Linked DNA regions of Homo sapiens: all the other regions are linked to region 3. Evidence: fine-mapped expression QTL. A gene starts in region 3. Each other region holds a variant in brackets. All regions are shown on one strand. Distances are from middle to middle.

Region 1 (2,500 bases), 570 kb before region 3:
CTTTCATAAATTTACAATCTCGTTTCAATACAGTGGTGGTACGTGCAGCTATCGAGTGCTGTAGGAATATGGGGAACTCATTCCTAAGAGTGACAGTGGATCTGTCTCTAGATTTTCTAGAGAGGGAACGCCTAAGGTAAGTCTTCTACTGTGGGTAGAAGTTAATCCAGACAAAGAAGGGCATGAGGTTCAAAAGGAACAGCATAAGCAATTAAGGATGTCAGCAAGTAGCACAGTGTGTTACCTTAAGGAATTAGGAATCACTAGATCACAAGATGGGAAGTGAGACTAGCAAGGAAGGAAGGAAACAGGACAAAGAAGCTTGGAGTTCATTCTGCAACCAGTTGGGAACTAATAAAAAAATTACAGTGTTTTTGTTTGTTTGTTTTCTTTTTTCTTTTTTTGGAGACATGGTCTTGCTCTGTCAGCCAGGCTGGATTGCAATGGCACAATCACAACTCATTGCAGCCTCAAGCTCCTGGGCACAAGCGATCTTCCCACCTTAGCCTCCCGAGTTGCTGGGACCTGAGGTGCGCTCCATCAAGCCCCGATACTCTTTGTACTTTTCATAGAGATAAGGTTTTGCCATGTTGCCCAGGTTGGCCTTGAACTCTGGGGCTCAAGTGACCCGCCCATCTTGGCCTCCCAAAGTGCTGGGATTACAGGTGTAAGCCACTGCTCCTGGCCAGGAATTATAGTTGAGATAGACCCTTTTGCAAGGAGTGAGGAGAATGGATTGGAGTGGGGATAGCATGGGAAGTAGAGAGATAAGTTAAGGAGTGTTGGCGTTTGTCAAGGCAAAAGAAGGCAAAACCAGTGGTAGTGAGGATAGAGAAGATACGGATTCAGAAATAGATAAGGGGAAAATTGGTGGCAATAGATTATCTCTTGGACATAGGTGGTAAGGGAGAGGTTAGCAATATAGGGAATCCACAGAACACAAAGTCTCTTGAGTAACTTGTATAGGACTTCAGTTCCACAAGAAAAAAAAAAACAGTTTATTACCACAAAAGGAAAAGAAAAGTCTGATTGCTCATGCTTCTTTTTGCATTGCTCTTTGGGAGTTTCTGTTTTGCAGCTGGAGAACCAAACCGGTCCTGGTTTAAAGTTCCACTGTCTGTGGTTTGAGGGCACAGCCAGTGAGCAGATCTAATGAGTCCACT[A/G]AGTATGTCTTAGAGGATCAGTGCATGCTTGATGGTTGCTTTTTTGCCCCAACTTTATTGTTTTTTTTTTCTTTCTAGGGAAACTGGGCCAGAATTCAATTTATTTAACAGCATAGATGGCTCCTCAGGAAGTCCAGTTCCAGACGGCCACCAGAGGAGAACAATCCAATGCCAAGTCTGTTATAAACACTTCCGGGCTCTGCATTCTCATAGGATGTGTGTTGAACACTAACATGTCAACCCTAGCTCTAATCCTAAAGCACCTAGGATATGAGGTGGATCTTTTTATGTTCTAGATCCTAAGAGGAGATTTGGCCCACAGATATATAAAAAGAACAGTTTGGTTTAGAGATAAAGAAGAATATGACTTTAGAAGAGAGGGACCCCATTGGTTATAAACTCTTCCATGAGACTGCACAGAGGTTACATGTTATTCATCTTTGAGCACAGTACCTAGTGACTGAGCATGCACACTTAGTAAATGATTATTGAATATATGAATACATAGAAAGTCATCTAGCCTGGGACAGGAAAATGAATTATAATTTTGAATAAAACAATTCAGCCTTTTGGAAAGCAAAAGGAAAATCCTAACATAGGATTCCAAAATAAAATAAAATACAAAATCTGTCATAGCTAGGGGTGGAAGAAACATCACACTTGGAGCTGACTAGGTTTTCTTAGCTGGTTAGTGCTAACTGGCAGGGGCACCAGAGTAAAATGGGCCTTCTGGAAGGCTGGAAAGCTGGAGGAAGAGGTGTTTTCCTGGAAAGCCAGGGAATAATTCTGATTTTTTTTCCCTCTAAATTAGAGTGGGGACTTGCTGAAGTTGAGTTTAAGTGAAGGTCAAAAAGAGAACAAGTTTTGTAAGAATTCCTTAAATGCCTGGGTTTGATGATCAGTGCACATTCCTCAGGAATTATTATAGCAGGTCAATAAGAACATAGCCAGTAATGAACCTTTCAGATCCAGCAAGGACTCACATTTCATGCACAGTTTCACCAGCAGTTGCATGACCCCTATCAAGGACCCCAGCAGCCAAGGGAAGTGACTCAAATATGTGGTTCATCTGCTCTTACCCTGGGCAGCCACTCTAGTTCTTATACAGTTATGTATCTTTTGCTAATTAAACCAGGAACCTAATTTAATATTTTTGCTTTGTGTGTAAGATTTCTTCATGTCCATCTATAATCCATCTGAGATACAACTGGCATAAAGATGGGTTCTGAAATGCTGTAGTTCGTGTCAGAAGTAGATTCATAAGCCAAATTACTATCATGGTTTGATTTTAGAAATGGTGTCAGGAAAACAAGAAATGAAATGGTGAGATAAAGAAG
Region 2 (2,500 bases), 670 kb before region 3:
ATATAGTTTCAAGTAGCTAGAAGGTGGATATGGAACGTTCCCAACACAAGGAAATGATTAAATGTTTGAGTTCGTGGATATGCTAATGTATGGAGCATAAGTAATTCCATCTTAGCAAAAGACTCCATCTTACATTTTAAAAGGCATCGTACCAACAGGGACCAGATGTTTGCCTAATCAGTAGAGACTGCATGCAACCAGATAAGGACATAACCAGGCACACTTTCCCACTATCAGTCCTCACCAGAGGACTTCACTGGCTCAGAACAGCCATCTTGACAGACACTGGTCTTGCTGTTAATTGTGATAAACACCCGGCATCCGCGGAAGGCTCTGCCCACATCAAAGACTCTTCCTTGTGGTTCGTTAAAAGACTGCCCAGACCAGGACAGGAGATTCTTTTTGTCCACATTGCTCCCCTTGGACTGTTTCATTAACCCATTTTCCTATCCCCTTTCTCTTGATGTTAGATGTTACTTCGTTTGATGTGGAATGTTTAATCTGTAACATTTGTATTGATTTAGTATACCATTATGTATGGTTTGCAATATCGACTGACTTTTGGAATGGCTTGAGCCTGTGTGCCTACAGCTCTGACTACCGAGTAAATGGGATATACTAAGAAGAATTACCTCCGTAAAGCTTGTGGCTTTTATGATTGGAATAGCATCAGTAAAAGACTGATACTGTAGAAAGACACAAATGTCTGTGGATCTGGTTATGTCTGACTTTGTGCTGCTCATGATACTAATCACCCTGATCTGACTACTATGTATTATGTGAATGGAAACTTCACTATGTGTCTCATTGATATGTGCAATTATTATTTGTCAATTAAAAAATTTGTTTTAGAAGAATATAGAAAAAGAGAGTACAGTCGACCCTTGAACAACACAGGTTTGAATTGTGTGGGTCCACTTACACATGGATTTTTTTCAACCAAACTCAGATGAAAATACAGCAGTATTTGAGAGATGTGAAGCCTGTATATACAAATGGCAGGGCCGGTGATGGGACTGGGATATGCAAGGACTGGAACCAATACCTCCCAGTCCCCACCCCGTGTATGTGGAGGGAAGACTGTATAGTTAATGCATTTGGCCCTGTGATGCTTCAGTGCCAAACAGACACATACAGAATCTAAGACGACACAGACAGAACACAGTGCACGCTAAATCCTTGTTTTTCATATCAGGAATAGACACTTTATCTAAAACTGCTAATACAAAAATGGTGATATAAGGTTATTACTAGGAAATGAGAAGTAATTCTCAAAGGAACTAAATTCAGAAATGGACAAAAGCATAGGGCCTGGGAAGGGGGACTGCGTATCTGGAGGGCTGGTGCTGGGGGCTG[T/C]TGCTTTTCATTTTTAATTCTTCTCTATTACTGATTTTATTATGCACATCTTATTCGTTCTTTAGGGCCTAGTTAGCTTTATCTCTCCTCCCCTGAGGCACAAAGCATATGCTGTTAGTTCTTTCATTCCATAATCAATACTAGACTTGAAAACCAGAAATAAAATCCTAAGCCTCCCAGCCATTCTGAATGGACCCCTTCTCTCAGCAAAGGACATTCCAAAGTTAACTTGAAAAACTAGTTCAGGCCATGATGGGAAGGGGGGGTCAGACATGCCTCATTACACCCTCCTTTCTTTTGGAATTACTGATAGGACAGACTCTTTTTTTTTTTTCACTCTTGTTGCCCAGGCTGGAGTGCTATAGTGTGGTCTTGGCTCACTGCAACCTCTGACTCCTGGGTTCAAGCGATTCTCCTGCCTCAGCCTCCTGAGTGGCTGGGATTACAGGCATGCACCACCATGCCCAGCTAATTTTGTATTTTTAGTAGAGATGGGGTTTCTCTGTGTTGGTCAGGCTAGTCTCGAACTCCTGACCTCAGGTAATCCACCTGCCTTGGCCTCCCAAAGTGTTGGGATTACAGGCGTGAGCCACCGTGCCCGGCCAGGACAGACTCTTTAAGTCTGATAAGAAACGCTTACAATCTATTCTCTCTGAAGCCTGCTACCTGGAGGCTTCACTGCATGAAAAAACCTTGGTCTCCACCACCCCTTATCATTTTTGTTTTTTTGGTTTTGAAGTTGGACATGCTGAATATTCTATTTTTGTTTCTTTAACTTTATTTTAAGTTCAGTGGTACATGTGCAGGTTTGTTCCATAGGTAAACATGTGCCATGGTGGTTTGCTGCATAGATCATCCCATCACCTCGGTATTAAGCCCAGCATCCATTAAGCTATTCCTCCTGATGCTCTTCCTCTGCCACCCCCTCAATAGGCCCCAGTGTGTGTTCTTCCCCTCTTTGTGCTCATGTGTTTTCATCACTCAGCTCCCACTTTAAGTGAGAACGTTCGGTGTTTGGTTTTCTGTTCCTGCATTAGTTAGTGGAGGATAATGGCTTCCAACTCCATTCACATCCCTGAAAAGGACATGATCTCATTCCTTTTTATGGCTGCATAGTATTCCATGGTATATATGTATCACATTT
Region 3 (2,500 bases):
CCACGATTACAGAATTTGTAACATTCTTACACTTGGAACTTCATGCACTCAACCAATTCTTACTCTGCCTTGTAAATCCCCCTACCACCAAAGCATGCATTCCCGGTTCTGAAGAAATGGAGGAGGGGGCACAAGAAGACCCTGATTTATTGCATGCAAAAGGAGCGATGGTGGAAATGACTAGAGGGCCTGGGGAGGTGTGATGATGCCGAGAGTGAAGAGGACAGGGGAAGCAAGCTGAGAGGGTGAGGCCGCGGGGAGACCGGGGCGCGCGGCACGCGGCGCTCTCACCTGTGGATGTTCATCTCCCGTGGAGGGCGGTGGGCCTTGTCGTAGGAGACCTTGGCGAAGACGCCGGCCACGATGACGAAGGCGATCACCCCGCAGGTGATGTAGACGGTGAAGTTGGTCTTGTCCTTCTCCGGGTCGTACTTGTTCTCGGGCCCCGGCGACACCACCTTGGTGCTGGGCGTCTGTACCCACACCGGGCTCTGGTAGTTGGTGCACTGGCGCTGGTCCAGCTTCTCGTGGCGCTTCTTGCAGCAGAAGCGGTAGTAGCAGGTACCGCAGCAGTACAGGTAGCCGCTCTCGCTGTTGTTACACTCGAACTCCTTGTCGTACTGGCCGCTCACGTCGTAGTAGCCCCAGCACGTCTCGTAGGTGACGGCCGCGCTGGCCGCCGCCGCCACAGCCGCCGCGGGCTGCCCCCGCCGGCTTCCCGCCTCCGGGATTCCGGGCGCCCGGGCGGTGCCGTTCAGCTCGCGGCCGCCCCGTGCCAGGGCGCCCCCGGCCCTCCGGCCCCCGACGGCAGCGCCGCCTGCACTCAGGGTCCGGTTGGCGGCGCGGCCGCGGGCTCCGTGGACGCTGGGCAGCAGGTCCAGGGACTCCAGCGAGAGCAGCAGCAGCAGCAGGAGGCGCCGCAGCGCCATGGCGGGGCCGGGCGGGAGGGCGCGGGGAGGCTTCCGCGGCAGGCCGCTCCCCCGGCGGGCCGGGCTCGGAGGACCCGCCGCGCGGGCCGGGCTGGAGGCGCTGAGCGGTCAGCGGCTCCGGGGCGATGGCGCCATCGAGGCGCGGGCGGCAGTGGCGGCGGCGGCGCGCGGTGCGCACGGACCGGCCCGGCGCGGGCTGCTCGGGCTCTCAGGCTGCGCGCCGGCTCCGCGCTCCCCCTGCGGGCTCGGCGCGCCTCCTGGGCAGCCCCATCCCCCGCCGGCGGTGACTGCGGCCCCGCGCGCGGCTCGGCTCAGGCAGGACCCGAAGCGCGGCTCCGGGCGGCGGCGGCGGCGGCGGCGGCGTGGTCCCGTCCGGGCGGGTCCTGCGGGACAAGACGGGGAGCCGGTCACGGGGTGGGGCGACTGGCGCTCCGGGAGCAGGAGGAGAACCGCGGGCAGGCGGGCGGGGAGGGTGCGCGCAGCCCTCGAGGAGAGAGACTCGGAGCCGGGAGGGGCGTAGAGCCCGCTCCCAAGACGGGGTCCCGCGGCCCTGCGCGCCTGGAACCGAGAGCGCACGGGCCGCCCCTCCAGGCGCAGCTCGGCCGCCCGGGTCCCCCAGCCGCCCGGCCCCGCAGCGCGCTCCCGCCGCAGGCTGGCTCCCTGGGACGGAGCCGGTTGAGGCTGGGGTCCGGCGGCGAGCCGGGAGAGCGCGCGGCGGCTGGACCTCACTCACTCACCATGCCCGGCTGCGACTGCAGAGGCGGCGGCGGCGGCGGCGGCGGCGGCGGCGGGGCGAGGCGGGAACGCAGCTGCCGGAGCGAGCGAGCGGAGAGCCGCCGGCTCGCCGCCTGCACTAGTGCCGGAACGTGTGCGAGAGTGAGCGAGGGAGACACACGCACTCACACACCCGCACACACGGGAGCGCCGCGAGGGGAGGGGGGACAGGGGAGGGGAGGGCAGCCGCTCTCCGCCACCCACGTTTGCACGCCCGGGCGCTCAGGGTGCGGGGCGGGGGGGACTCCTTTTCGCTTCTTCCGGATCGCAGCAGTTGAAGCTCCGCGTCACGAAAGCTCCGGACAGCAGTTATTCGACACGGCGAACCCGGCGGGCGAAGAGGGGGCCGGGAGCAGGGCGGAACGTCCGCTCTGCAGCCGGCCCGCGGCAGGGACTGACCTCCCCTGCCATTGCCTTCTCTAGCCTTCGCGACCAGTCCCCACCCTACCGGAGCCCGGGGCAGCGCGCTGCCTGAGCGGGAGTTGGGGTTTCTGCAAGCCTTTGCCTCTCCCTAGTGGTGATACTCGCAGCCAGGAGAAGAGGTCAAACCCATTGCTACAGGTTCCCAAACTGAGTCCAGGGGTCAAGTGGCTTGTCTGAGGCTGTTGGGCGACCCGTGAGCTGAGCCTACACTCTCTTCCCCTTGGTCACTCTTTCCCCAACCCCGTACCCACTACGCATAAAGGCGCTAGACAGCCCCAGGACTGGATGGCAACTCTTTGCTATACTTTTTTTTTTCCCCGCGGAGCCTCGAGGCCATTAGAAAGCTATCTGAACCTCTGAGACTCAGCTTTGTA

Which allele goes with the higher level. Positions count from the first base shown, and alleles are read on the strand shown. Sizes are in standard deviations (SD) of each study's normalised expression.
For the expression in tibial nerve of the gene that starts at base 1,139 in region 3, allele A in region 1 goes with a higher level than allele G (small effect, 0.17 SD a copy in GTEx).
For the expression in testis of the gene that starts at base 1,139 in region 3, T is the high allele of the variant in region 2 and C is the other (large effect, 0.89 SD a copy in GTEx).

Evidence for each region. PIP is the estimated chance that this variant, and not a neighbour inherited with it, causes the effect. A credible set is the group of variants that fine-mapping cannot tell apart.
Region 1: its variant is the best candidate, but not a certain one, in a credible set for the expression of SHISA6 in tibial nerve (GTEx, PIP 0.85).
Region 2: its variant is the best candidate, but not a certain one, in a credible set for the expression of SHISA6 in testis (GTEx, PIP 0.78).

What each region holds. Positions count from the first base shown.
Region 1 is chr17:11,813,694-11,816,193 of GRCh38, reverse strand. The region is part of intron 45 of DNAH9 (dynein axonemal heavy chain 9); the gene reads right to left. Among named protein-coding and RNA genes, the nearest start is that of ZNF18, 180 kb to the left of the region's middle. The variant A/G (reference allele first, on the strand shown) is at 1,164.
Region 2 is chr17:11,906,649-11,909,148 of GRCh38, reverse strand. All of the region lies in intron 61 of DNAH9 (dynein axonemal heavy chain 9), which reads right to left. Among named protein-coding and RNA genes, the nearest start is that of ZNF18, 90 kb to the left of the region's middle. RefSeq lists a silencer at 217-409. The variant T/C (reference allele first, on the strand shown) is at 1,357.
Region 3 is chr17:11,239,852-11,242,351 of GRCh38, reverse strand. It overlaps SHISA6 (shisa family member 6), which reads right to left and starts at 1,139. Exons shown (of 6, transcript NM_207386.4): 1 at 292-1,139. The coding sequence starts at 929.